Linked DNA regions of Homo sapiens. The protein of the gene in region 1 purifies or fractionates together with the protein of each later gene. This does not show direct contact. Each region holds a gene or a part of one and is shown in the gene's direction. Other genes may lie near its edges.

Region 1 (7,298 bases):
TTTACACGTTCTCCAATTGGCTGAGCCCTGTTTTAGGATCTAATGACACAAAGATGATTTTAAGCAGTGTCTCTCACTTTGGAAATTTATTGTCTAGTTTGGACTATGAGGGAATTATTTTCATATATACAATTTTTTTTCCAGGAGTAGCCATTCTTCTTTCAGTTAGTCAGGGGTCTTTTGGATTTCCCTCTCTTTCATTGGATGACATAGTTAAACTATATTGTGCTTTCTCTCATGCAGGGCAGCCACTGATCACAATGTGGATAATACAACAGAAATATTCAGGGAGTGGTTGAAAAATGTACAGAGACTCTATCACTATGTGGAGTGGAGGCCTATGGATGAACCAGAGTGAGTAGCAAGTGCGAAATTTGTAAACTCATTATTTACCCTTCCTCTTTAACTAGCTCTTTAGGGCTTCCAGGTTTGGAGGTACATGTGACTTTTCATTGTCTTTCATTTCTGTAGCTATGTGAGTTCTGAATATCTGCCATTTCTCCCTTTTAGAGATCTTCACAGTACTCTCTTGCTGTTTACTCCCACAGCTGCCAGCCAAGTTCAGATTTTCATTACTTCATAAATAAATTGCCATGACAGTTTATATTTTTAAATATTGATATTATTTATTCATATTTTAAACAAACTTTTATATTTGGAGGATCATATTGAAAATGTGTATACTTTCTACATAGAGCTTGCTTTTTTCAACTTTTATCTTGATAATCATTCTATAGCAATAGTTAAGGAGCTAATTTTCATTTTTTTTACTGCATAATCACTGTTGTATGTGCATTTACCATAATTATTTAATTGATCCCCTACTGATGCTCATTTAGGTAATTTCCTATCTTAACCATAGAAATTCCTTCTTTCTTTCTTTTCCTTCTTTTCTTTCTTTTCTTTTCTTCGCTTCTCTTCTCTTCTTTCTCTCTCTCTCTCTCTCTCTCTTTCTCTCTTTCCTTCTTTCTTTCAAGACAGGGTCTCACTCTGTCACCCCAGCTGGAGTACAGTGGCATGACCATAGCTCCACTGTAACCTCGTACTCCTGGGTTCAGGCAATACTCCTCACTCAACCTCCTGAGTAGCTAAGACCACAGCCATGCACCACTATGCCTGGCTAATTTTATTTTTATTTTTTGTAGAGACATGATCTCACCATGTTGTCCAGGCTGGTCTTGAACTCCTGGCCTCAAGCGATCCTCCCACCTTGGCCTTCCAAAGTGCTGGGATTACAGGTGTGAGCCTTTGTGCCTGGTTACCATAACAATTTCTTTCTTTTTTTTTTTTTTTGAGACAGAGTCTTGCTATGTCACCCAGGCTGGAGTGCAGTGGTGCAATCTTGGCTCACTGCAACCTCCGCCTCCTGGGTTCAAGCAATTCTCCTGCCTCAGCCTCCCGAGTAGCTGGGACTACAGGTGTGTGCCACCACACCCAGCTATTTTTTTGTATTTTGAGTAGAGAGGGGATTTCACTATGTTAGCCAGGATGGTCTCGATCTCCTGACCCTGTGATCTGCCCGCCTTGACCTCCCAAAGTGCTGAGATTACAGGTGTGAGCCACCGTGCCCGGCCACCATAGCAATTTATTAATTGCTTCTATCTCCAAGTCATCCTACATACCATACAGTCAAATCAATCTACCTCAAATACAAATGAAATGGTTTCATTTCTTTATTAAAAATACTTCACTTACTCTTTAGGACCTGAACAAAGTTCAAACACCTAAGACTTATATTTTTAAAATTCCATGAATTTAGCACCAAAAGAAAATGTGCTTTATCCAGAACGTTTCTTTTATTTCCAAACCCCACACTGTTGCTTGTGCAGGTCCTGGAAGACCCTTTCCTTCTTTATAACTAATTCTTATCCTAAATCATGCCTACTATAGAAACCTATTCTTAATCACTCAGTTATAAATATCTACCTTTGTCTCAACAATTGTATTGCTTATATTCTATGTCATCCTTTTTGGCACAATGATATACGCAACCAACATTTTCCCCCTATGCAATTAATGTATTTTTTTTCTAAATAAGTTGTAAGTTCTTTGGCAGGGGCTAGAATATATAAACACTTTATATTCCCCCTCTCCCCTCAGAGCCATGTTCTTGGCAGGCACTAAATTAATACTGGTTGGATGAACAAATAAGAACAAGAATAAATGTATTTAAAACTTACTATTATAAATGTTCCCAAAGCTACTACAGTTTTACTTTAAGGAACTGTAGAAATAGAATGAAGGAGTTGCCTGAATTTCTTCCCCAGAGAAGTCATTTATTGAAAGCCAAATTTGTATTATAGTAATAATAAATGCCATTCCAGAACAAGTTTCTGTTCTTCTAGTCTTTCTATATGTAAGAATTATTATAAATATTTATATTATAAAGAAATATATATAAATATGATATAATATATACATATGTGTTTCTCAAATCCAAGCCCATGGACTGTATATCAAGCAAAATTTAACAGTGAAGTCTGAACACCGTAAAAGATTGTAAACACTCCTTTAGAGTGCCTTATAATGGAGTTTGGCCTAACAAAAATGGCACAGAAATACTTTGTGTCCCTTCTTTGCACCTTGGTAATGTTCTCTGCAGCCAGGTTTTGACTAAATATATTATATGCCAAGGTCAGTGTGAAAAAATATTAGAACAGGCATTTTTGGGGGGAATATATTTAGAAAAATGAGAATTCCACTGATTTTCATTGAAACAATAACTGGGGAAGATATTCCAGAGAATTCCTGTGCTGTACATAGTTTTATTAACCTTATTTGTTTAGTTACAGTCTCATTGTTTTTGCAGTTTTTCACTCACTAAAACAAATGTACTGCCAGTGCAGCTATGAGATCTTGAAGTGGTGGCCAGTTTTGGGTTACTGCAACAGTATCAATGTCCGTGCCAGCTGGGTGCCTTCAGAAGGGTTTTGGAGCGTGCTCCAACCCACTTGCCTATGTGGCCATGAAGGAGTCTTGGCCTGGCTGTTTTGTGAATCTTGATAGAGATCCCACGACCTCACTTTACCTAAGATAGATCAATGTGTTAGGCTGTGTGGAATCATTTGTGGAGACTCCAACAAGTAGATTAAACCTTTGATTTTCCTGGGAAACTCATGTTTTACACTGCATACTCTCCAAATCTATTCGATGTCGGGATGTATAAAAATTGTCTAGGAACATGAGCTTTTTGCTTGGATTCAAATCTTGATTGTGCCCCATTGTGTAACATTGGACGAATGACTTAACTGCTCTACCCTGATATCCTCACCTGTGAAATGCAGAGAATAGCAGTACTCACCTCAAAGGGCTCTCATTAGAACCCACTGAAATATTTCATGTAAAGATTCTTGTATACAATGAGCAGTGAGTTACTTGACTTCTCATTGCTCCGGTTTCCTCATCTGTAATATGGGGATGATGATAACAATAATAATAGTATCTACTTCCTGGGATTGATAGAAGATTAAATGAATACATATAAACATTTAGGACAGAGCCTGGTACATGTAGGCACTCAATAATGATGAGCTATTATTATTATTTTAGGTCTTACCCTGATGAAATTGGACCAAAGCACTGGCCAACCTCCCGGTTTGCCCATGTGATGAAACTACGACAGGCAGCCCTTCGAACTGCGAGGGAAAAATGGTCAGACTACATTCTGGTAAAAACAGATGTTTGATTTCTTGACAACTGTCATCTCAGGTGTATCCAAATCAGTCGTCCAAAAACTAGAACCATGGAAGCAATCAAAACAACCTTTTTGATTAGGCAGTGCCTCCCCCACTTTTTAAGAAAGGCACAATGAAATTTTTGGTAGTTTAAAATTGGGCTACCTGGACTTCATCTTCAGGCCCACATGCATTTTCAGTGGGTAAGTGAAGAAGTGCCTGAATTATTTGGTCTCTGCCATGCAACAGGCATAAGAACTCTGCATATTTTTAGCTCACAGGAAAGGCTGTAGGTAAAGCAATGTAAGTTGTTCTTACAACTTTTTGGAAGAATTTGGGGGATATGAAAAAGTAATTATCTAAAAAAGTGATTCAGCTGAACAGCTCTGAAATGGTTCCCTTTTGCTCCTGAATGATCTGGGGAGTAGCATCTGTTGCTTGGCACAGTGATGCTCTCTTTGGAGAATTTATGTCCATCCCCATCCCCTCAACCACAGTGAAAATCTGCCCAAAAATGTATCACGCACACTTGTGACACAAATCCTTTCATAGAAGTTTTCAAATTGTACTGACAATATTTAACATTGTGTAGCTGTTTAAATGCCATTGAAGTGTACAAATGTTAAATCACAAAATTTGGGGTAAACAGATGGACTATCATAAAAATGAAGACTTCTGAATTTTTTATTGTGATAAAACCTACAAAAGGTAAAATCTGTCAGTTTATCCCTTTTTCAGTGTATAGTTCAGTATGATTATTTCTTTTATAAATTAGAATCTGTTGTTATACTGTCTCTAAATAAATCACTGTTAACATGGACTTCTAAGAATAGGAAATAGCTTCACTGGTTAGCATGGGTTGATATAATGTACTTAAACAAAAATTCTACTTGTCACATTAAAATTCATTGATAGATCTGTTTTGAGCTACTCTGGCATTACTATAGAAAAGCTAAGTAGGCATGCCCATCTGTACCTAGACTGGGCAGCCAATAAGTGTTTTTGAATGAACCTTTAATGGCTTGGGAGCCATTAATATCTTGTGCCTAAAACACTAGCCAAAGTGTAGGTTGGTTCCTGGTTGAGGCTATGCCCAGTATGGCAGCACCAATTTACTGCTTAGTGCCTTATGCAGAGCCCAACATACGAAAGTTAGACTAAATATATTTTGACTGAATGAAAGCCACCTAGCTGCAATGGGTTTCAATAAGGAGGACATAGATAGCTGGTTCCATATGTCATGAGCAAGTTTCTGGGATCCTTCAGAAGGGCTGGGTTATTCTCAAACTCATTACTGAAAAGTACCTTTTCACCTAACATTATCCTTTTCTTTTCCTAGTTCATAGATGTTGACAATTTCCTGACTAATCCACAGACCCTCAATCTACTGATTGCAGAAAACAAAACTATTGTGGCCCCCATGCTGGAGTCTCGGGGCCTGTATTCTAATTTCTGGTGCGGAATCACCCCTAAGGCAAGTCTTTTGCTTAAATGAATTAAGGCTACTAGTTTTAACAAGGCAACACCCGGTCAACAGTAGTCCCATTCACCTTTCTCTTGTTTACTCCCTTGAAACATGCGTGTCATTGTGTTCCCAGAGCAAGCATTTTTTAGGAAGGGCAGTAAATCTGGGTCCAATGCTACACCCAGTTGGGCTCTTCTGTGTTAATTTATTATGAAAAAAATAGTCTAAAGAGCTTAGCCTTAGAAACGTCAAATTAGCCAATTCCTGATTCAGGAATTACTATTTTTAATTAATTCTTTTTGTCCTTACAAAACTAACATAAGAACACTATAGAAAAACTTAGAAATTAAAAAAAGTTTAAAAGAAAACCAACAAGACAGATGTTAAATCCCCATCACCGTAACAACATCATAGATAGAAACTTGCACGTTTTTAGTAACTGTGTTATCATCAAGTGGCTATGTTCCAATTTACTTAACCTTTATCTCGGTTTGAAAAACATTTAAATTATTCACAACTTTTTAACTATCGTGACCGTCATGATTAATATAATTTTTCAGCATTTAAGATTATATCCTTAGGATAGCTTTTTAGAAGTGGAATTACTGAGTCAAACAGTACAAATATGCCAGGCGCGGTGGCTCACACCTGTGATCCCAGCACTTTGGGAGGCCAAGGCGGGCGGATTACAAGGTCAGGAGATTGAGACCATCCTGGCTAACATGGTGAAACCTCATCTCTACTAAAAATATAAAAAATTAGCCAGGCGTGGTGTTGGGCGCCTATAGTCCCAGCTACTCGGAAGGCTGAGGCAGGAGAATGGCGTGAACTTGGGAGGCGGAGCTTGCAGTGAGCCGAGGTCGCGCCACTGCGCTCCAGCCTGGGTGACAGAGCGAGACTCCCTCTCAAAAAAGAAAAAAAAAAAAAAAGTACAAATATTTCAATGACCTTCGATGTATGTTGCCAAATTTATTTCCAAAGAGTTCTAATAATGAAAACTACCATGGTAGGTTATTTTTATAAAATTCAAGTTAAAAAAGGTTTGATTTTTTATTATTTCTTTTTTTCATAGTAAAATCTTCAAAATAGTGGTCTGTTTTAGTGAATGCTCATGGCTGGTTATATTTTTTATTCTTTAATTAAAGAATTAGATAAATTCAACTGATTAATGTAATATGTATCAATGTAGGATAAAAATGTGCTAAGCAAAATATGTTGGCCAGGAGCAGTGTCTCATGCCTGTAATTTCAACACTTTGGGAAGCTGAGGTAGGACAATTACTTGAACCCAGGAGTTTGAGACCAACATGAGCAACATGGCGAAACCACATCTCTACAACAAATCAAAAAATTAACCAGTTGTGGTGTCGTGCACACCTATAGTTCCATCTATTCGGGAGGCTGAGCAGGGAGTATTGCTTGAGCCCAAGAAGTTGAGGCTGCAGTGAGCTATGATCACACCACTGCACTGCAGCCTAAGCAACTGAGACCCTGTCTCAAAAAAAGAGGGAGTATGTTCAATGTATTCTCATGGCCAAAGGGCTAAAGTTTGAGTCTCCCCTTTATATTTGGTTTTGTTTTGGATGAGAAATAAGGTCAGTAGTGTGCTGATAAATGTTTAATAACTGGCTCTTTGTGGGAAAAACCCTAGTTGGTAGCATTGCCAATTTTTATGGTTTAAATACTCCCACCATGCAAACAGCTTAAATGTTGTTAAGCTAAGGGAAAGGTTAAGTAAACTGCAGTATAGCCACTTGATGATACAGCTATTAAAAACATGTAAAACTGCCACATGAGGTGTCATTAGAGTGGTGGGGATTAACGTGATTTTTGTTTTTATGGATTCCAAGCTATCAACATGTCAACTGGTTTGCAAACTTTCTGAAAATTTAACAATGTGTGGTCCAGTACACCACTGGATGAAGCATTCCTCTTTTGTTGTAATTATTTCTTCTAGCTGTAAGAGATTTTGAATGCGTGCTATTTTCTGTGTCTCTTTTGGGAAGGTAATATGTTCATATTTCTAACAGCCATTCACTTCCTTGGGAGAAAACATTATATTGGTTTAAATTCATACATTTTCAGTGTTTCACATGGCAGAATCACTTGAGGGTTGTTTTTAATGAGTTGTGCTTTGACATCAGCAACAAGGGTGGGTTA
Region 2 (7,000 bases), on another chromosome or scaffold:
CTAGATGTATTCCCTTCTATCCCATCTTCCCCTTGAAACACATAGTGGGAATGTCCCTGAAATGGACAGCACCTATGCCAGGTCCCTGGATCTGGATCCTGGAGGGCTGGAGGTGGTTGGGGTTCATTCTTTGCTGCTTATTTGACAATGTCTCCCTTTTCAGGGTAACCCTGGAACAGATGGAATTCCTGGAGCCAAAGGATCTGCTGTGAGTGTTGCCCGTGGACTTTGCTACCCCAGGAGAGCCCAGTCCTGCCTCTCCCCTCTCCTGACACCCCTCCCTTCTTCTCATGCCCACAGGGTGCTCCTGGCATTGCTGGTGCTCCTGGCTTCCCTGGGCCACGGGGCCCTCCTGGCCCTCAAGGTGCAACTGGTCCTCTGGGCCCGAAAGGTCAGACGGTAAGAGCCCAAAGTGACCCCCAAGTTCCACTGACATCTCTGGAGTCAAACCCCATCACCCCTCTTTCCCATGCTCTCCTGCCCTGGCCTCACAGCGGCCTCCATCCGAGGGCATCTTGAACAGGGGTTCTGGGGAGGGGCAGGCTCCCTGGAGAGAATCTGGTGTGAGGACCTGCCTCTCTTTTCAAGGGTGAACCTGGTATTGCTGGCTTCAAAGGTGAACAAGGCCCCAAGGGAGAACCTGTGAGTATCTGCCCCCAAGCCCTTGTCTTCTCTGCTGCTGTTCTATGAGGCACAGGCCTCAGCCCCACTGACCCACCACCTCCCTCCTCCAGGGCTCTATCCCCCAATCTGGGTCCTTTCAGATTATGCCTGGAGGAGACTTAACAGGGCTGAGAAGGCCCAGATACAGCTTCAGCTCCCATCCTTGGTTTGGCTAGTGTGAACAGTTGGATCTTTAGCCCCTCTCACTTCCCTCTGCCCTGCCATGGCTCGTCCTTTATGGCCTCTCGTCCTCAAGCCCCCCCCCAGCCCTGAAACAGTTGCCAAGGCTACTTCCTTCATACTCTGAGTCGAGGCTTGCTCCAAGGCCAGGTGAAGGCTCACTCTGTTTCTCTTTTTTGCTGGTCCTCAGGGCCCTGCTGGCCCCCAGGGAGCCCCTGGACCCGCTGGTGAAGAAGGCAAGAGAGGTGCCCGTGGAGAGCCTGGTGGCGTTGGGCCCATCGGTCCCCCTGGAGAAAGAGTTAAGTGAATGTGGAGGCTCCATCCCATGGGGCCTGTGACCTCGAGAGGGAAGTGGAGTCCTTGTGGTCCGTGTTCTGGTCAAGTCTCGTGACTTTTCCGCATGTCATCCTCCTCTTTCTCCATCCACACCGCGGGGAGAGGGAGTCTGATCCTGATTTGTGCCGCCAACCACCAGACTGACATGAAATAGTCTGAGCTCCTTCCCAGGAAGCGGGGCAGGCTCCAGAAGTTAACCTCTGAGAATCCTGCAGGCCACAGCTACTGCTCCCCAGAAATTGGGGTTGGTGGGTTAGTGGGATGGACCCACTGGAGCCTGGCTGGGTTGGGGCTGTTCTCACTCACTGCCTCTCCTCCCTGTGGCTCCTTAGGGTGCTCCCGGCAACCGCGGTTTCCCAGGTCAAGATGGTCTGGCAGGTCCCAAGGTGAGTGGGAGAAGAGGGGCTGGGGTCCCTCCCTGCATCGCTGAGGTCACATGGTATCCCACTGACTCCCTGTGTACCCTTGTAGGGAGCCCCTGGAGAGCGAGGGCCCAGTGGTCTTGCTGGCCCCAAGGGAGCCAACGGTGACCCTGGCCGTCCTGGAGAACCTGGCCTTCCTGGAGCCCGGGTAAGTAGCAGAGCTGCTGTTGCCCTTGGCTTCAGACCCTCAGGCCCTTCCTGGCTGGCTCCTTCCAGCCCTGCACTGCCAGGATTGGGAGGTCCTGGGGCCGGCTCCTGACCCCACCCTCTTCTCTCTCCTGAACAAAGGGTCTCACTGGCCGCCCTGGTGATGCTGGTCCTCAAGGCAAAGTTGGCCCTTCTGTAAGTCTATCCTCTGAGGGCTGCTAGGAGGGTGGGGGGATCTCCCTGGGGAAGCAAGGGAAAAGAGAGATGGAGTTTGGGTTAGGGAGGCCTGAAGTACTGTGAATTTTGAGAATTGTGACAGGGGGTAGATGGTAGGCACTGGGGCCAGATGTAACCTGTGCAGTAGCTGTGAGCACTGAAAATGCCACCCCAGTATGCATTCGGGGCTTATCCTTGGGGGAATGATGACATCGTGTGTGCACTTTCTGGGGCAGCTTTCTAAGCTCAGCGGTGTCTTGTTGTAGATGGGCCCATGGGTGTGATGTGGTCAATCCTAGATGCTGAGCATGTGTGGCTGGTGCCTAGTCCTGGGCCTGCCATGTAGGCCCTTAGTGGATGTTGGGTGGATGGATGTGGTCAGAGTGTCTATGTTCTGAGAATGGTGTTCTGTCTTTCAGGGAGCCCCTGGTGAAGATGGTCGTCCTGGACCTCCAGGTCCTCAGGGGGCTCGTGGGCAGCCTGGTGTCATGGGTTTCCCTGGCCCCAAAGGTGCCAACGTAAGTAATAATTTGCTCTTCTATTTCCTTCCATGTGGTGCTACCTACCTCCCTGCCCTCTTGGGGAAAGGGCTGGGTCCTGAGTAGAGTTTAACCAGGGACAGTGATGAGTGGGGCTCCTGTGCCATGGGTGGCAGTGGGGGTCTGTATGTGATTTGGGGAAAATCCATGGCCCCACAGAGCCTCGGGGCATTGCGGCCATAATTGTTCCATGTGGCAGTGCCCAGCAGGCTGGTTGCCATTATGGCCCCTGAACAGAAGAGAAGGGCTGATACTTTGCTTTATCTTGGCTGTCCATCAGGATGTGGCCCCAGGCCTCAGTCCCTGCAGCCCGCTCTGCCCCCAACTCCCTCCCAAACCATCCGCCTCATGGCCCTGCCCTCTCTTTCCTTCAGGGTGAGCCTGGCAAAGCTGGTGAGAAGGGACTGCCTGGTGCTCCTGGTCTGAGGGTAAGTATCCTTCCCCGCTGCCCATGACTTGGTGTTGGCCGGGCATCTGCAGGGAGGACAGGGGAACGGCCTCCCCATGGCATGGTCCCGGGACCCCTCAGTATTGAGTGTTGATCTCTGTGGCTGAGCCCCATGCTGGCTGGGCCCTTTGGGTGTCTACACAGGGAGACTTCTGTTTGCCATTGGTCAGCAGGCCGGGGAGCTGGGGAAGGCTTCCATGCTGAGAACAGCTAAGAAAAGACGGGGCCTGGGAAGGAAGGGAGGGGAAGGTGTGGAAATGGAGCTCAGCTGGGGTACCGTGGAGGTCTGGAAACTCTGGGCCAGAAGTACCTTTGCCCAATCCTAGGGGGACTGCAAGTGGGAAGAAAAGCGTGTCATTGACTTTTCTTTTTCTCTTCTGTCTAGGGTCTTCCTGGCAAAGATGGTGAGACAGGTGCTGCAGGACCCCCTGGCCCTGCTGTAAGTACCTGCCCAGCCTCCCCAGGTGGCCCTGGGGGCAGGGGCTGGGAGGGGTGGGGGTGGGAGAGCCCATCCATTAATGGAGCTGACAGATGTGAATGTGGGCTGAGCTGATACACCAGACTCACTCTGAGCTGAGGCAGGGTGTCCCAGGAGGCTGTGTGGACCCACATTGGTGGAGAGGAGTGTGGGTGGCTGATGGGAGTGCAGGGAGGCATGCATGCACTGTCTGAGTGGTGCAGGAAGACGCCTGTGCTGCCCACCCTGCTGACCTCCCCTGGGCCCTACTAGCTGTGGCTCTCAGGGTCTCTGGAACACTGGCTCAGCTCACCTTTTCTTTTCCACTGCAGGGACCTGCTGGTGAACGAGGCGAGCAGGGTGCTCCTGGGCCATCTGGGTTCCAGGTAGGTGGCTGGACCAGGCTCTCTGTGCAGTCCTTTGCCATACCCAGGGCTCCCTGGGACAGCAGCAGGCACTATCGGTGGAGGGCCCACACCTCTTGCAGGGTGCCAGGCATCGAGCCTTCCCTGCACCCCTGGCTGTCACTGCTGCTGCTTCCTTTCTTTGGGTCTGCCCTATACTGTGCCTCCCTGGGGGCCAGGGCAGCAAACTCACTCCTTTGCTAACGCTTGTCACTTCGGCTTCTAGGGACTTCCTGGCCCTCCTGGTCCCCCAGGTGAAGGTGGAAAACCAGGTGACCAGGTGAGTATGGGGCTCTTTGGACCTGCAACCTGTTTAGATGGGAAGGTCTTTTCTGATGCCTAGGAGGCAAGGGCAAGAGGGCATGAGGAGCCCTGTGAGGCCTGGGAATGTCCTGGACCCATGTCCCAGCCTCCACAGATGACACAATCCCCCATGGGAGGAGTGATATTCAGCCCTGCTGTGGAGAATTGTTCAGGGGTCTGTGATATGAAGCCTTCACTCTCACACATCTTTCTTTGTTCTCCAGGGTGTTCCCGGTGAAGCTGGAGCCCCTGGCCTCGTGGGTCCCAGGGTGAGTATCCTGTTGGCCAATGCGGGCTGCCTCCTTGGGCCTGCCCTGGGTCCTATGCTCCTGCTCCTTTCCCCACCTCCCTGCTTCTCCCTGGACCTTCTCCCCCACTGCTGTTGGTTGATCACTTCTTGGTGTCTCTGCCGCAGGGTGAACGAGGTTTCCCAGGTGAACGTGGCTCTCCCGGTGCCCAGGGCCTCCAGGGTCCCCGTGGCCTCCCCGGCACTCCTGGCACTGATGGTCCCAAAGTAAGTGAGGCTGCATCCTGTAGGGGTCTTCGTGGTAGCCTGGGAGTCCCACTGAGCAGGGAGAAGAGGAGCGGGCTCAGGAGGAATGAAGAACAGAAGTGGGGGGAGCTGGAAAGGAGGTCTACATGGGAGGAAGGGAAGGAAGAGGGGTTTGGGGCCCTGGTTACCCAGGCTCCATGAACATGGGTTCAGGGAGAGGTGCTGTCCACTACAGACTCCCTCTTACCTCCCTCCCCAGGGTGCATCTGGCCCAGCAGGCCCCCCTGGGGCTCAGGGCCCTCCAGGTCTTCAGGGAATGCCTGGCGAGAGGGGAGCAGCTGGTATCGCTGGGCCCAAAGGCGACAGGGTAAGTACTGAGGTTACAGCCTCTCACCAAAGCTGTGGCTTTGCCACATTCCTGCCCCTTGTGATCGCTTCCGTTCCCTTATGGCACCTGGTGATGAAGGTTTCTGTTAGCCCTTTTTGAGGAGCTTAAAGACTCCTTTCCAAAGCTCCCTGCCTTTTAGTGACATCCTTTCCCCTGTTCCTTCATCTCACCCCTGCTGCTCCTCACCCACCCTGAGACCACAGCAAATTCCTCTTGGGCAGGGACTGGGCTTTCCCTAGCACCCCAGCCTGGGTGGGACTGAGCAAACCATGGGGGTCCTGGGGTGCCTGGCTGAGGCGGCTGGTTTTCTCTTCCCTCAGGGTGACGTTGGTGAGAAAGGCCCTGAGGGAGCCCCTGGAAAGGATGGTGGACGAGTAAGTGAATGCGGGCTGCTGGACTGCTGGGCATTAGGATCCTAGCCCTGCACCCAGGAGAGCAGGAGAGAGGGCTGGGCAGTCTGCCACTGGGGTCCCTGGTCCTGTCTCTGTCGGGGCTGGGCAACTGCAGGGACTTCTCTGTTAAAATGGGGCCAGAGGGTAAGTGGGAGCTCTGGAGGCGGTGGGAGCACGCACCAAGGTTGGCTTGGTGCCGGGCCGCACGTGCTCGGCTGGCTCAGCCTGCCTCCCTCACCTCTACCTGCTCTCCCCGCAGGGCCTGACAGGTCCCATTGGCCCCCCTGGCCCAGCTGGTGCTAATGGCGAGAAGGTGAGTCCCGGCTCCTTTCCTCTCCACACCTTGCCTCCCTGTCACACCTCCTTCTTATCTCCTGCCAAAGGCGGTTCTGTCTTGTCCTCCCTCACCACTGTCACCCTCGGCCAAGGCCGTAGGAGTGAAGAGGGGGCCCTCTCAGAAGTGAAGCCGCTGGCAGTGTTCCCTGTTGGGTGGGGCAACTGGGCTGGGGTAAACACACATTCAGCAGAGGCCCTCGAGAGGGTGCGGGTATGGGCTGCACAGTAACACAGGCTGTGCCAGGGGGACCTGGAGCCCCCTTCCCACGAGCAAGGCCCCCCAAATGCACTTTGCCCTCTCCCACTCTGCCTCCCCACCTTCTTACCCCAGCTCTTCCTCCCTTCCCCACCCTCAGGGAGAAGTTGGACCTCCTGGTCCTGCAGGAAGTGCTGGTGCTCGTGGCGCTCCGGTGAGTGTCTGCCCCTCTGAGCCTGGCTCTGCCCGAGGCCCCTGGGAACCAGAGAGCCAGGGAGTCAGTGCAGGCCCTCATGCTGCCTGGTGGCCCTGTGTGCTGCCAGGCACTGGCTCCCTCCCTACCCGCTGGGTCTAGGGTGGGAGGAGAGATGGGAAGGGAAGGGGGAAGGCACGTCACTCCCATCATGTGTTCAGGGTGAGGGCTTTTGGGTTAACAGAGCCTCTGCCTGCGTTCAGGACTAAGGCTGCTTTCAGATCCCCGTCTCTGGGGAACAGGAGGCTGGGCAGGGCCCAAGGGGCTCTTGGAGGGGAGCAGAAGCAGGTCAGGCAGCGGGGCCTGACCTCTCGCCATGCCCCCTTCTCTCACAGGGTGAACGTGGAGAGACTGGGCCCCCCGGACCAGCGGGATTTGCTGGGCCTCCTGTGAGTATCTCTGTCCATCCTCCTGGGTCCCTCCACTCAGGCCAGTTCCACATCCAGCACCCTCGGGCATCGGAGCTTGTCAGGGAGGGAAATGGATGCTCCTCTCCTCTCCTTTCCCGCCTCCATACTAATAGAACCATCATGTCCAGACCAGGACACACACGCAGATACTCACAGAGTCTCCTGCTCTTCTGGAAGAGCTCCAGGGTTTTAGCCTGCCCCTCATTCACCTGCTTCCTCCTTCCCATTATAGGGTGCTGATGGCCAGCCTGGGGCCAAGGGTGAGCAAGGAGAGGCCGGCCAGAAAGGCGATGCTGGTGCCCCTGGTCCTCAGGGCCCCTCTGGAGCACCTGGGCCTCAGGTGGGTAACGCTGCACTCCAAGAATTGTTCCCTCAAGGAAGGGCTCCTGGCGTGCAGATGGGAAGGCCCCAGCAGGC
Region 3 (7,453 bases), on another chromosome or scaffold:
CAATAAAAGGCTGTTACAGAGCTGTATGGCAGGGCCACCCCTGTATGGAGGGCAGACTCCAGACCTGTAGAGCCATCAGCATGCAATACTTGCCTGAGAGAGCCCAGGTACCTCTCTTCAACTGCTGAGAGCTGCTGGGTTGGAACTGTGCCCATCAAAACCATGGGGTAGGGCTGCCCCGGGGCTTTGGGGGTCCAACCCCCAGCCCAATGCATCCTGAAGGCAAGATACTGAGTCAAGAATTATTCTCAAGCTTCAAGAGTTAATGTTGTTGGCCTTTTGGGTTTTTAACTTACTTGGGACCTATTACTCCTTTCTTCTTGCCTATTTCTCCCTCTTGGAATGGGAATGTCAGTCCTGTTCCTGACCCATCATTGTGTTTTGGAAGCACATGTATTTGATTTCACAGGCTCACAGCTGCAGGAGAAGTTGCCTCAGGATGAGTCATGGCCTTGAGTCTCATCCATATCTGATTTAGGTGAGACTCTGGACTTTATAGTTTTGAGTTGGTGCTGGAATGAGTTGAGACTTTTGGGGCTACTGGGATGGATAAATGTATTTTTGGGTTTTTTTTGTTTGTCTTTTGAGACAGTGTTTCCCTTTGTCCCCCAGGCTGAAGTGCAGTGGTACGATCTTGGCTCACTGTGAACAACTTCCGCCTCCCAGGTTCAAGCAATTCTCATGCCTCGGCTTCCAAGTAGCTGGGATTATAGGCATACACCACCACGCTCAGCTAATTTTTTTTATTTTTAGTAGAGACAGGGTTTCACCGTGTTGGCCAGGCTGGCCTGGAATTCGTGACCTCAAGTGATCCGTCTGCCTCAGCCTCCCAAAGTGCTGGGATTACAGGTGTGAGCAACAAGCGTCCGATAAATGTATTTTGCATGTGAGTAGGACATAAATTTGGGGGGCCAAAGGCGGTAAGCTATGGTCTGACTGTGTCCTTCAAAATTCATCTATTGAAAATTGCTAATGTGACAATACGAAAAGGTATTGGAAATGATTAAATCATGAGTACAGAACCATCATGGATGAGATTAAGGCCCTTAAAAAAAGGTTTGAGGGCCAGGCACAATGGCTCACACCTGTAATCCCAGCATTTTGGGCGGCCAAAGTGGGCCGATCACCTGAGGTCAGGAGTTCAAAGCCAGCCTGTCCAACATGGCAAAACCCCATCTCTACTAAAAATACAAAAATTAGCTGGGTGTGGTAGAGGGCGCCTGTAATCCCAGCTACTTGGGAGGCTGCAACAGGAGAATCGCTTGAACCCAGGAGATGGAGGTTGCAGTGAGCCGAGATTGTGCCACTGCACTCCAGCCTGGGTGACAGAACAAGACTGTCTCAAAAAAAAAAAAAAAAAAAGTTTGAGGGAATGGGTTCCTTCTCTTCTGCCCTTCTGCCATGTGAGCACACAGTGTTAAACCCCTCGGATGAAGCAGTGTTCAAAGCACCATCTTGGAAGAAAAGACTGAGCCCTCACAAAACACCGAAACTGCTGGTACTTTGATCTTAGACTTTTGAGCCTCCTGAACATGAGAAATAAATTTCTGTGGTTATAAATTACCCATACTAAGGTATTTTGTTACAGTAGCACACATGGACTAACAGAGGAGCTAATCAACATTTATAGAATACTCCACCAAACAACAGCAGAACACTCTTTTCAAGTGCTTACAGAACATAAACAACATAGACCATATCCTGGATGACAAAATATCAACAAATATAAAAGAATTGAAATTATACAGACTGTGTTCTGACTACAAGGGAATCAAATGAGGAATCAGTAACAGTCAGATAACAGGAAAATTTCCAAATACTTGGAAACTGAACACACTTTTAAATGAGGCATAGGTCAAAGGAGTCTCAAATGAAAATTTTCTAAAAAGCATTGAACTGGGCCAGGTGCGGTGGCTCACACCTGTAATCCCAGCACTTTGGGAGGCCAAGGTGGGCGGATCACCTGAGGTCAGGAGTTTGAGATCATTCTGGCCAACACGGAGAAACCCTGTCTCTACTAAAAATACAAAAATTAGCTGGGCGTGGTGGTGGGCACCTGTAATCCCAGCCACTCAGGAGGATGAGGCAGGAGAATCAGTTGAACCCAGGAGGCAGAGGTTGCATTGAGCTGAGATCATGCCACTGCATCCAGCCTGGGTGTCACAGCGAGACTCTGTCTCAAAAAAAAAAAAAAATTATCGGCTGGGCACGGTGGCTCACACCTGTAATCCCAGCACTTTGGGAGGCTGAGGCGGGCAGATCACGAGGTCAGGAGATGGAGACTATCCTGGCTAACACAGTGAAACCCTGTCTCTACTAAAAATACAAAAAAAATTAGCCTGGTGTGGTGGCGGGTGCCTGTAGTCCCAGCTACCTGGGAGGCTGAGGTGGGAGAATGGTGTGAACCAGGGAGGCGGAGCTTGCAGTGAGCCGAGTTGGCACCACTGCACTCCAGCCTGGGTGACAGAGCAAGACTCTGTCTCAAAAAAAAAAAGAATTACCACAGATGAATGGATAAGCAAAATGTGGTATACACATATAATGGGATTTTTTCAGCCTTAAAAAAGAAATTCTGACACATTCTACAACATGAATGAACTCTGAAGACATGCTAAGTGAAACAAGCTAATTACAAAAGGACAAATACTGTTATGGCTCCACGTACATTAAGTACCCACAGTAGTCAAATTCATAGACAGAAAGTAAAATGATAGTTGTCAGAGGCTGAGGGAAGGAGGAATAAGTTTTTGTTTAATGGGTACAGTTTCTGAAGATGGTAACAATTGCCCAACAATGTGAATGTACTTAATGTGACTGAACTGCACATTTGAAAATAATTAAAATGGGGCCAGGCGCAGTGGCTCACGCCTGTAATACCAGCACTTAGGGAGGCTGAGGTGGGTGGATCACTTGAGGCCAGGAGTTGGAGATTAGTCTGGCCAATATGGTGAAACTCTGTCTCTACCAAAAATACAAAAATTAGCCAGGCGTGGTGGCGGGCGTCTGTAATCCCAGCTACTGGGGAGGCTGAGGCTGGAGAATTGCTTGAATCCAGGAGGCAAAGGTTGCAGTGACCTGAGATCACGCCACAGCACTCCAGGCTGGGCAACAGAGCGAGACTCCGTCTCAAAAAAAAAAAAAAAAACCACAAAAACAAAACAAAACAAAACGGGTTAATGGCCTCTCTGTAGTCACTGAATCCCAATAGACCATACCTGGGTTCAGTAATTTATATTTCTAAAAAGATCCCAAGACTTAGAAATCACTGATGTATATCATCAAACACATTGGTCAAGCTTACAATACTATATATAACCTAAGCATTATCACAGAACGTAATGTAACTTTTTTTTTTTTTGAGACGGAGTCTCCCTCTGTCGCTCAGGCCGGAGTGCAGTGGCACACTCTCGGCTTACTGCAACCTCTGCCTTCTGGGTTCAAGCAATTCTCCTGCCTCACCTCCTGAGTAGCTGGGACTACAGGCGCCCGCCACCACGCCCGGCTAATTTTTGTATTTTTAGTAGAGACAGGGTTTTACAATGTTGGCCAGTCTGGTGTCGAACTCCTGACCTCAAGTGATCCGCCCGCCTCAGCCTCCCAAAGTGCTGGCATTACAGGCGTGAGCCATAGCGCCCCGCCCGTAATGTAATTTTGGGGGAAAGATATGAGTGGCTTACATTTCAAATATTTCTGAATTTTTGAGTTATCTCAACTTGAAGCAAAGGCCCAGCAGTTCGATATCAGGAGTAATAAACGGTAAAGAAAACAGAAACAAATTACAATCAAGCAATGCCAATCAGCAAGAGAGTGTGACATGGCCCTTTTTAAGCCAGAGTAAACTCTTGTGAGCTTGCCACTAACTCCCATTTTAACGAAATTATTCATTTTAGGAAACCGCAAGGTTTTTTTTTTGTTTTTCTTTAATTTTTTTAATCTTTGCAAGAGCTGTCAGATAAGAAGGTTGTATTATTTATTTGGTTCCAGATAAAATTTTGAACTATATCGAAATTATAGACTGGCTTTCTGGAAAGGAAATGGTCCTAGACAATTTATAGGCTAATGAGCAGAGACCCACCTTAACAAAATTTTGTCCCCAAAACGAAACAATAGAACACACGTGGGTGGATCCTAGTAGGGAGAAGGGGTGGGCGGGGTCAGGCACAGGGGGCGGAGCCAGCCCCACGGCGGAGGAGAGCCCAGTCCGGTCTCCGCCTCCGTGACGTCCCGGGAAGCACCGCCCACAGCTGCCCGGGACTCCAGTGATCGCCGCGGCTCGCTCGCGCCCCGGAAACTGCCCCTTCTCGGGGGTCATGATGGGCAGCAAGATGGCGTCTGCTAGTAGGGTCGTTCAGGTAAAGCAATTTGTCGCGTTTCCGCATCTTGGGCGGTAGGGACGGTGCTGACTATGGCGACGGCGTCGGGGAGTAAAGGCGGTGGCAGAGGCAGAGCGGTGACCGCGCCTCTGCGGAGGGCCAGTGACGGCGCCCGCGGGTGTGTGTGAGGATGGGACTTTGAGCCTGTTGGACCGGGCAGTGAGGTGGGTCCGGCGCCGAGGGTTCGAGCCTTGCGGCAACCGTGCAGCATCTTGGCAGGTAGGTCCTGTACCTACTGCCGGGATCCCCCGCTCCTCCGCCAGGACCTTGTTAGTCTTAGGCGTGTGCGGGTGAGGCGACCCTGGCGGTAGCCTGGCCAATCGCCGTCTAGGATTGGCTGTGGTGCCCCCGATCAGCCAATCGGAAGGAAGGCGGTAGCGGGGCGTGGAAGGAAGCGAACCCTGGATCTGACCCACTGTCCCTTCAAGGTCTCGGGAATGGTCGGGCAACTGGCCCCGCGTACTGCGTCCTCGCCGGAGCGGGTTCTCCCCAACCTCTCCAAGCGTCTGGCTACAGGCCAGATGAGGGAAATAGAAAAGTAAACTTAAGTTTAATTAGTATGTGTGTGTGTATATTAATGTGTGTGTGTGTGTGTGTGTGTGTGTGTATAAGCGTTGGTTTCACAAGCCTATTTTCCCCTGGTTTAGATAGACAGCTAAAGTAACTTTGTTAATCCACCTATCAGCTACTAACTCCTGATAGCCTTTTTATTTGTTTCTTCAGCTGTGGTTCTAACTTAGGTAAAATTATTATATAAGTGGAACACAACCTCCACTTTTGTGGTTGGTTTACATAGTCTTTGAACCCTGAAACTATATTATTTTATAATTGACTTTTATCTTTGATATGAGAAGTACATTCCGCTTTATATAAGTACATCTCTTAAAAGACCTTTTTCTAAATTCCTGAAATTGTTGTCTGAATGATAATCCTAGATCCCAGTCTTTGGTCCCATTGCAATGAATGATCCTTACTTATTCAGTAGGTAGTTACTGAGCATCAACTAGTTAAAGATTCTGTAAGGACTGAGAGACTGACAAAGGTCTGTTATCCATAATATATAACCATATGTATCAATAATATATAACAATTTAAAAATGGGTAAAAGACTTGGCGTGTTGCACAAAAGATACCCAAATGAGCAATGAACATTTTAAAAGGTGCTCAATATCATTACTTGCCAGGAAAATAAAAATTAAAACCATGAGGTCCTACACATCCACCAAAATGACTAAAATTTAGACGTCAGTGGTGATGAGAATGTGAAGCGTCTGAAACCCTCAATATTGCTGGTGGGAATATAAAATGTTATAGCCACTTTGGAAAGCTGTCAGTCTCTAATAGTTAAGCATGTATCTACCGTATGACCCAGCAATTCTACTCATAGGTTTATTGCCCAAGAGAAGTGAATGCACATACTGTCTCTGTACGTAAATGTTCACAGAAAAAAAAGAGTTACTAGCAAAGAACTGGGGTCCAGAGCTGAGGGGTTCCAGCCTGGCAGCAGGAGTGTGGCATCTCAGCAGGCAGGTACTATATATACTGCCATGGGGTCCCTGGCTCTATTTCTGATAGCCCCCAAACCACAAACAATCTCTATGTCTGTCTTTTGCATAAACAAATTGTGGTAGTTTGTTAAAATAGTACAGTCCAAAGCAATACTAACAGCTGATGTGTGCAAACAAATGAAGAAACTGTGAGATATACAGTAAGGAATGGTCTGTGCCCTTCTAACATAGGAACAAAGACCTGTACTCACCTATTTAGAATTCAAATCAGGTTCGTGATTGCGCTCTTAAAAAAAAAGAAAAAAAGAGAGAATACAACCAATATGCTAATATAATATCACTTGAGCCTAGGAGTTTGACGCTGCAGTGAACCACAATCACCCCACTGCACCCCAGCCTGTGTAACAGAGCAAGACCTGGTCTCGAAAAATAAATAATAAAGTATGTGCTAATATTATGTAATAATTACATATAACATTAGCAAAATTTGTTGAGTATCTCTGTGACAGGCCTATAAAGCTAGGACTACAGTGCCAGTTAGAGTTTAGGCCAGGCTCACTGATGTATGCCTGTAATCCCAACACTTTGGTAGTTTGAGGCAGGAGGATGGCTTGAGCCCAGGAGTTCAAGACCAGCCTGGGCAAAATAGCAAGACCCCATCTCTATAAAAATTTTAAAAAATTAGCTGAGCATGGTGATGTGCACCTGTGGTCCCAGCTACTCAGGAGGCTGAGGTGGGAAGATTGAGCCTGGGTGATCAAGGCTACAGTGAGCCATAATCATGCCACTGCATTCCAGCCTGGACAGTAGAGCTAGACCCTGACTCAAAAAAAAAAAACAAAAAAACATAGAGCTTAGAATTTGGTTGTTGATCCATATCTTGAAGGAAGAGAAGAGTGCCAAAAGACTGATTGGTACAAACTGATAGGAAGTCACAAAGCGTGGTCTCAGAACATTAAGTAAAGACAAAGCCAGCTGGGCACGGTGGCTCACACCTGTACTCCCAACACTTTGGAAAGCCAAGGTGGGAAGATTGCTTGAGCCAGGAGTTCAAGATTAGCCTAGGCAACATAGCAAGACCCCATCTCTATAAAAATTAGCCAGGCAGCCGCCCCGTCTGGGAAGTGAGGAGCGCCTCTGCCCGGCCGCCCCGTCTGGGATGTGAGGAGCGCCTCTGCCCGGCCGCCACCCCGTCTGGGAAGTGAGGAGCGCCTCTGCCTGGCCGCAGTGCAATCTTCCAAGTGTGAAGTGACAGCCTTTCTGCAGGTGTACCCAACAGCTCTGAAGAGACAGCAACCATCGAGAACGGGCCATGATGACGATGGCGGTTTTGTCGAAAAGAAAAGGGGGAAATGTGGGGAAAAGAAAGAGAGATCAGATTGTTACTGTGTCTGTGTAGAAAGAAGTAGACACAGGAGACTCCATTTTGTTCTGTACTAAGAAAAATTCTTCTGCCTTGGGATGCTGTTAATCTATAACCTTACCCCCAACCCCGTGCTCTCTGAAACGTGCTGTGTCCACTCAGGGTTAAATGGATTAAGGGCGGTGCAAGATGTGCTTTGTTAAACAGAT
Region 4 (7,298 bases), on another chromosome or scaffold:
ACTCCATCTCAAAAAAAAAAAAATTATATTACACATTCCATGTATCTCTTAATCTATGTTTGCTCACACCACCACCAGCCTAAATCAGGCCTCTTTCATTGCCACATGCTTGCGCTCTGTGGATGGTTTTATTAACTCCCTAAGTGGACTCCCTGCCTCCTGTTTCTCTGGTCTTCAGATTCCTCTAACATTTCCAGCTGATTGGAATGCTTCAATACACAAAAGCTTTATTTTTCCCTGTTAATTAGAGGATCAAGGCCACACTCCCCTAAGCTGGCATTTGGAGCCCTTCCTGCTCAATTCTAACCAACTATTTTGGTCTATTTTTCACCATTCACCTACCTCAAGATTTCCTACCCTCTGTTGACCATTTTGAGTTTGGGAAACTAAAAAATAAATAAACATTTAAAAAGGCCAAACGTGGTGGCTCACACCTATAATCCCAACAGTTTGGGAGGCTGAGGCAGGTGGATCACCTGAGGAGGTCAGGGGTTCGAGAACACCCTGGCCAACATGGCGAAATTCCATGTCTACTAAAAATACAAAAATTAGCCAGGTGTGGTGGCATGCGCCTATAATCCCAGCTACTCGGGAGGCTGAGACAGGAGAATTGCTTGACCCTGGGAGGCAGAGGTTGCAGTGAGCTGAGGTCGTGCCACTCCAGCCTGGGCGACAGAGTAAGACTCTATCTTTAAAAAAAAAAAAAAAAAAAAAAAAACAGGCCAGGAGCAGTGGCTCACACCTGTAATCCCAGCACTTTGGGAGGCCGAGGCAGGTGGATCATGAGGTCAGGAGTTCAAGACCAGCCTGGCCAAGATGGTGAAACACCGTCTCTACTAAAAATACAAAAATTAGCCAGGTGTGGTGGCAGGCACCTGTAATCTCAGCTACTCGGGAGGCTGAGGCAGAGAATTGCTTGAATCCGGGAGGCGGAGGTTGCAGTGAGCCGAGATCACGCCACTGCACTCCAGCCTGGGTGTCAGAGGGAGACTTCATCTCAAAAAACAAACAAACAAAACAAAACAACAAATAAGATTTAAAAAAAAAGATTTCCTGCTCTCTATACTGTTGACTTTTTGGGCTGGATCATTCTTTGTGGTGGGGGCTGGCCTGTGCATTGTTGGATGTCTAGCAGCACCCCTGGCCTCTACCCACAAGATGCCAGTAAAACCCCTACCCTGAGTCAGATAACCAAAAATGTGTCTGGACATTGCCAAATGTCCCTCGGAGGGCAAAATCGTCCCCTTACTACACAGCCTATGCTCTCTTTCTGATCTTTGCTGGACTGTCCTCTTCATCCATCCATGTCAACACCCTACTCATTTGTGAAGGCCTGGGTGAGAGGAAACTCCCAGTGACTTTCCCCTCCCTGTCACTAACTGTGACCTCTCCTTCCTCTGAACAGACATTGAGATCGGTGTCAGGAGTGGTGGTGCAGGAATCGTATGACAGGGATTGTGGGGTGGGGGAGTGGAAGGGTGATGGGGTGAGGACTGTCCTGGGTTTGCTAAGTTTTCTGCAGTGAACGTGTGCTATTTTATTTTGTACTTAGGAGAAAAATGCAAGGTGGGGTTCTGTTGTGTTTGGCTTTGTTCAGCAGGAGACCAGGGGTGGTTAGGAGCCAGAGTGGAGGAGGCAGCAGAGAAGGGGAGTGAGGTGCAGACCAAGGTCACAGGTGAGCAGAAGGGTTGAGTGACAAGGAGTTAACCTGAGAAAGAAGGTGGGATGTCTTCTTCCCACTGGTACAGAAAACGAGAAGGCAAAATAGGTAAATATACAGAGAAGTGTCAACTGTGGATACAGATAATAAATAAGGTGACGGGCTAGACGATACTTAGTGCCCTCCCACCTCAGAGACTGTTTCTGTTAGATGGGTGGCTGGGCCACTTCTCAGCTGCGGAAGCTCATGTGACCTGTGAGTGACCCAACATATTGTGTCTCCTTCAGCTTCCTGGAAAAAAGGATTTATTCATTGAGGCAGATCTCATGAGCCCTTTGGATCGAATTGCCAATGTCTCCATCCTGAAGGTACTGTCCCTTTCCCCTGGGGGCCATGCCCCTCTTTAAGCAGTTTTTCTTTTGATGAACAATACAAACTACTGAAGAGTGACTACTCTTGTAGGGCAAATATAGGGTAGCTTAATTGGGTAGAAAAGGGAGATTGATGCTGTTCGTATTTTTTTGTTTTGTGTTTTTTTGCGGCGGGAGACGGAGTCTCTCTCTGTTGCCCAGGCTGGAATACAGTGTAGTGACACAATCACAGCTCACTGCAGCCTTGACCTCCTGGACTCAGGTGATCCTCCTGCCTCAGCTTCCCAAGTAGCTGGGACCACAGGCATGTGCCACCACACCTGGTTAATTTTTAAATTTAAATTTATTATTTATTTTTCTGAGTCTGTTTACTACAGAATATATATATATATATATATATATATATATATATATATATATATATATATATATATTTAATTTTGTAGAGATGGAGTCTTGTTATGTTACCCAGGCTGATCTCAAACTCCTGGGTTCAAGTGATCCTCCTACCTTGGCCTCCCAACGTGCTGGGATTACAGGCATGAGCCACCACACCTGGCCCATACTGTTTTTATATTGTTTTATTTTAGGTTTTTCTATTGACAGTTTGAGGAAAATTCAGTGGGATGGTCGTCAGGGGAGCATAATTAGCATAATTAGGAAGCCCTCAATAATTAGCATAATTAGGAAGCCCTCAAGAAGTCCCCTATCTTCGTGTCACACTTTGTGCTTTTCAGGCACTCTTATGTCCATTGTCTTATTGGATTCTCTCTGTAGCAACACGAAGTAGACAAGCTATACAAGGTGGAGAACAAGCCAGCCCTCAGCTCCAATGAACAGTGAGTGTCTGGGAGAGTCTGTCCCTACTCCAAGCTGGAAGAGGTCCCTAGGGGCACGTCTGCCTTTCATCTGTCCTTGGCTGAGATATATGGTTCACCTCCCTGAACTTTACAATTTCATGGCTAGGTTAATCTTCTGTTGTTTTGTTTTGTTTTCTGTAGTTTCCTTTCTGTGGTTTCTTGTCCTCTTCCCTCTCTAATTTATAATACAGTCTATAACCAGATTGACTAATCTTTCAAAATTATTTTCATCGTGCTTTTCTCAAGAACCTGCAAGGCAGCTGGGTGCGGCGGCTCATGCCTGTAATCCCAGCACTTTGGGAGGCCGAGGCGGGCGGATCTTCTGAGGTCAGGAGATAGAGACCAGCCTAGCTATCATGGTGAAACCCCATCTCTACTAAAAATACGAAAATTAGCCAGGTGTGGTGGCGTGTGCCTGTAATCCCAGCTACTCAGGAGGCTGAGCCAGGCGAATCGCTTGAACCCGGGAGGCGATGAGTTGCAGTGAGCCAAGATCGCGCCACTGCAGTCCAGCCTGGGTGACAGAGCAAGACTCCATCTCAAAAAAAAAAAAAAAAAAAAAAAAAGAAGAATCTGCAAGGCCTCTTATTACTTGCTGAAGATTGTCCACATTATTTGTCATAGACTTCAAGGCTGTCTGCAGCGTGGCCTCCCACGTTACCTTTCCAGCCTTGTCTCGTGTGTCCCCTTCAAGCCTCTGTTGACATGTGCTTCCACCTGCCTCTCAGCCTGTGCCTTCACCCTTTTCATCACTCCATTCGCTCTGCCTGAAATTCTCTCCTGTCCTCACTGCTCCTATAAAGAATGTCCATCCTTCAGAGCCCGGCCACCTCCTCCATGAAGCTCTCTGTTGCCCTTCCAGTCTAGAGTGATTTTCTCCTCTGGATTTCCATGGCATTTTGTATTTGTCCTGTTCGCTCGGCATGTAGTCATGTACAGCTGTTGTCTTGATTTTAAAGTATTTCTGAAACTTAATTAATGTACATGCTTTCTTAGAAGAAAAAATTCTCCTGGATACATGGAGAATATATCCATGTACCCCAGTTTGAAAAAAAATATTTTCTATTACTTTCTTATATTTAAATTTTTTTAATTAAATTTATTTATTTTCAGAGACAGGGTCTCACTCTGTTGCACAGGCTGGAGTGCAGTGGTGCAATCATAGCTCACTGCAGCCTTGAGCTCCTGGCTCAAGGGATCCTCCTACCTCAGTCTCCTGAGTAACTGGGATTACAAGTGTGCAGCACTGCATCCGCCTATAGTTTTATTTTATTTTATTTTTTTGAGTAGGAGTCTAACTCTGTCACCCAGGTTGGAGTGCAGTGGCGGGATCTGCCTCCCAGGTTCAAGCAATTCTTCTTAGCCTCCCAAGTAGCTGTGATTACAGGCGCCTGCCACCTTGCCCAGCTAATTTTTGTATTTTTAGTAGAGATGGAGTTTCTCTATGTTGGCCAGGCTGGTCTTGAACTCTTGACCTCAGGTGATCCGCACTCCTTGGCCTCCCAAAATGCTGGGATTATAGGCATGCACCACCTCGCCAGGCCTTATAGTTCTTTTATTTTACTATTATTATTTATTATTATTTTATTTTATTTTATTTTTTTTGAGACGGAGTTTAGCTCTTGTCATCCAGGCTGGAGAGCAATGGCGCGATCTGGGCTCACTGTAACCTCCACCTCCTGGGTTCAAGCGATTCTCCTGCCTCAGCCTCCTGCGTAGCTGGGATTACAGACATGCGCCACCATGCCCAGCCAATTTTTGTATTTTTAGTAGAGACGGGGTTTCACCATGTTGGCTGGGCTGGTCTCAAACTCCTGACCTCAGGTGATCCACCCGCCTCTGCCTCCCAAAGTGCTGGGATTACAGGTGTGAGCCACCATGCCCAGCCAATGTTTGTATTTTTAGTAGAGACGGGGTTTCACCATGTTGGCTGGGCTGGTCTCAAACTCCTGACCTCAGGTGATCCACGCGCCTCTGCCTCCCAAAGTGCTGGGATTACAGCACTATTATTATTTTTAATAGAGATGAGGTCTCACTGTGTTGCTGAGGCTAGTTTCGAACTCCTGAGCTCAAGCAATCTTCTCACCTTGGCTTCCCGGAGTGTTAAGATTACAGGTGTGAGCCACCATGCCCAGCCTTTATTTTTAACTGACAGATAATAATTGTATATTTTTATGGGGTATTCTTATATTGTTTTTCAGCACTGATTGTTAATATACTCCATATCTGCATCTTTTTTTGCCCACTGGATTGTAAATTATTTGAGAACAGGAACTTTTGGGTCCACCATAGGGCCAGTAATGTACCCAGCTCATCACATTATACCCATTGTGTTGAGAGGTATCTTCTGTGGTTGGTATATGGTGGACCAAGAGAATAGCATAGCTTTGGCTAGGATGAGACCTGTAGGGCAAATGGCAAAAGAGTTGGTATTGTTTCAGTTTCTTCTAAGTTGCTATCCAACTTGATAATTCTTCTTCACTGTTTTTTTTTCTTTCTCTCTCATAGATTGTGCTTCTTGGTCAGACCCCGCATCAAGAATATGCGATACATTGCCAGTGAGTGTGCCATGGTACTATGTGTAACTGTGGGAAAGGGCGGGCAAAATCTAAGGGCCTTGGCCATAAGGACCCTCTAATAAGAAAATAATTGTTTGAGTTGGCCGTAGCACTTGTGGAGGATGTCTGCTTCCCCGCTTCTTTTTTTTTTTTTTTTTTTTTTTGAGACGGAGTTTCACTCTTGTTGCCCAGTCTGGAGTGCAATGGCACGATCTCGGCTCACTGCAACCTCCGCCTCCTGGGTTCAAGCGATTCTCTTGCCTTAGCCTCCCAAGTAGCTGGGATTACAGGTGCCCACCACCAGATCGGGCTAATTTTTTGTGTTTTTAGTAGAGACAGAGTTTCACCATGTTGGCCAGGCTGGTCGCAAACTCCTGACCTCAGGTGATCCACCCGCCTCAGCCTCCCAAGTGCTGGGATTACAGGCGTGAACCACTGTGCCCGGCAGCTTCCCTGTTTCTAGCATAACAGATGGCCCATGACTTGCTGGGCTGCATTCCTTCTCTCTGTAGGTCTTGTCAATGCTGACAAATTGGCTGGCCGAACTCGCAAATACAAAGTGATCTTCAGCCCTCAAAAGGTGAGTTTGGATCCTGGAGGAAGTGGGATAAGGTAGAACAGGACTGAGGACCGGGCAGGGGTAAGGGGCCAACAGCACTACCTCCCTGTCTCCGTTCGTTTTCTGTTGCTGTAACAGAATACCTGAGACTAGGTAATTTATAATGAACAGAAATTTATTTAGCTCATGGTCTGGGGAGGTTGTGAAATCCAAGACTGTGGGGCTGGCATCTGGCGAGGGTCATCCCATGGCAGAAGGGTGGAAGGTGGAAGCCAGCACATGAGACCAAGAGACACCCAGGGGCTGGACTCGCCTTATAGCAACCCACTCCTGCCATAAGGACATTAATCCATTCATGAGGACTCCTCCCTCATAACCCAATCACCTGTTATTAGGCTGCACCTCCCAACACTGTTGCACTGCAGATTCAGTTTCCAACAGATGAACTTTTGGGAGACACATTCAAACCATAGCACTCCCTCAAAGCAAATTATGTGTGATTGAACCTAATACCTGTCACTAACGCATCCTCAATTCATTAACATATCCTCATTTGTTTAGCAGAGGGTCTGTCATCATACTGTCCCAAATAAAGTATTGTGGAATTGTGCGAAGAGGCCTCTACGTAGATTTTTTTAAATGAAAAGCTTCACGCTTGCGAGGTAGAACCTGCTCTGTATCCCTAACACAAACTCTAGTATAGTAATGGTGCACAATGTTACGGCTTTCCAGTGACTTTCTCCCTGTATCCCTTTAAGAATAAATACGATAAATCATCACCCTCCCTCTTCCCATCCGCTATGCTTATAAGGATGTGGCTGGGCTGCCCCTGGGTTACTAGAACCATGCCACCATATATTGGAAAAGCCTTTTCTTGCACAGGAAAGGAACCTTAGAGACTGTTTTACTCCACCCCAACTTTGAGCAGCTGAGGGAACTGAAGCCCATGCTCACACAGTGAGTTAGCACAGCCAGAGTAGAGCTCTTCCATCTTTAACTCAATAATTGCAGTACATATTTGGAGGTCCATCATAGTCTGTCCATTTCTTGATTCCATTGAGCTCCCCTCTCACCTCCACATCAGCTACGTGCATCCTCAATCCCAGTGATTGGGAGGAATGACGTTCCAGGCCTTTACCTTGCCAACCATAGGCCTCTAAAGCTACAGCAAGTAGTGCATGCATACTTACAGAAGGTAGAAGCTAGACTAGGAAGAACAGGGATTTATTCCTTTTCAATCTTTCTAAGAAAATTCTAGAGAAAATAGAGGCAGTAACTAAGGACTGAAGC

The links.
Region 2: the proteins of COLGALT2 (region 1) and COL2A1 purify together in Homo sapiens (affinity purification with mass spectrometry; 2 studies listed by BioGRID and IntAct, with this or other methods). This does not show direct contact.
Region 3: the proteins of COLGALT2 (region 1) and KGD4 purify together in Homo sapiens (affinity purification with mass spectrometry; 2 studies listed by BioGRID and IntAct, with this or other methods). This does not show direct contact.
Region 4: the proteins of COLGALT2 (region 1) and VPS33B purify together in Homo sapiens (affinity purification with mass spectrometry; 2 studies listed by BioGRID and IntAct, with this or other methods). This does not show direct contact.

What each region holds. Positions count from the first base shown.
Region 1 is NC_000001.11:183,971,466-183,978,763, reverse strand, and holds part of COLGALT2 (procollagen galactosyltransferase 2), read left to right. Parts: intron 1-243; coding exon 244-354; intron 355-3,549; coding exon 3,550-3,667; intron 3,668-5,013; coding exon 5,014-5,148; intron 5,149-7,298. UniProt on the Homo sapiens protein: Beta-galactosyltransferase that transfers beta-galactose to hydroxylysine residues of collagen.
Region 2 is NC_000012.12:47,980,477-47,987,476, reverse strand, and holds part of COL2A1 (collagen alpha-1(II) chain isoform 1 precursor), read left to right. Parts: intron 1-163; coding exon 164-208; intron 209-300; coding exon 301-399; intron 400-588; coding exon 589-642; intron 643-1,033; coding exon 1,034-1,141; intron 1,142-1,511; coding exon 1,512-1,565; intron 1,566-1,650; coding exon 1,651-1,749; intron 1,750-1,889; coding exon 1,890-1,943; intron 1,944-2,383; coding exon 2,384-2,482; intron 2,483-2,877; coding exon 2,878-2,931; intron 2,932-3,336; coding exon 3,337-3,390; intron 3,391-3,740; coding exon 3,741-3,794; intron 3,795-4,038; coding exon 4,039-4,092; intron 4,093-4,339; coding exon 4,340-4,384; intron 4,385-4,530; coding exon 4,531-4,629; exon of another isoform or gene 4,630-4,680; intron 4,681-4,867; coding exon 4,868-4,975; intron 4,976-5,002; exon of another isoform or gene 5,003-5,062; intron 5,063-5,316; coding exon 5,317-5,370; intron 5,371-5,647; coding exon 5,648-5,701; intron 5,702-6,050; exon of another isoform or gene 6,051-6,080; coding exon 6,081-6,134; and 7 more. UniProt on the Homo sapiens protein: Type II collagen is specific for cartilaginous tissues. It is essential for the normal embryonic development of the skeleton, for linear growth and for the ability of cartilage to resist compressive forces.
Region 3 is NC_000005.10:69,213,520-69,220,972, forward strand, and holds the start of KGD4 (alpha-ketoglutarate dehydrogenase component 4), read left to right. Parts: upstream 1-4,240; 5' UTR 4,241-4,310; coding exon 4,311-4,352; intron 4,353-7,453. UniProt on the Homo sapiens protein: Molecular adapter that is necessary to form a stable 2-oxoglutarate dehydrogenase enzyme complex (OGDHC). Enables the specific recruitment of E3 subunit to E2 subunit in the 2-oxoglutarate dehydrogenase complex (OGDHC).
Region 4 is NC_000015.10:91,012,535-91,019,832, reverse strand, and holds part of VPS33B (vacuolar protein sorting-associated protein 33B), read left to right. Parts: intron 1-1,947; coding exon 1,948-2,028; intron 2,029-2,768; exon of another isoform or gene 2,769-2,808; coding exon 2,809-2,870; intron 2,871-5,399; coding exon 5,400-5,449; intron 5,450-5,961; coding exon 5,962-6,029; intron 6,030-6,162; exon of another isoform or gene 6,163-7,298. UniProt on the Homo sapiens protein: May play a role in vesicle-mediated protein trafficking to lysosomal compartments and in membrane docking/fusion reactions of late endosomes/lysosomes.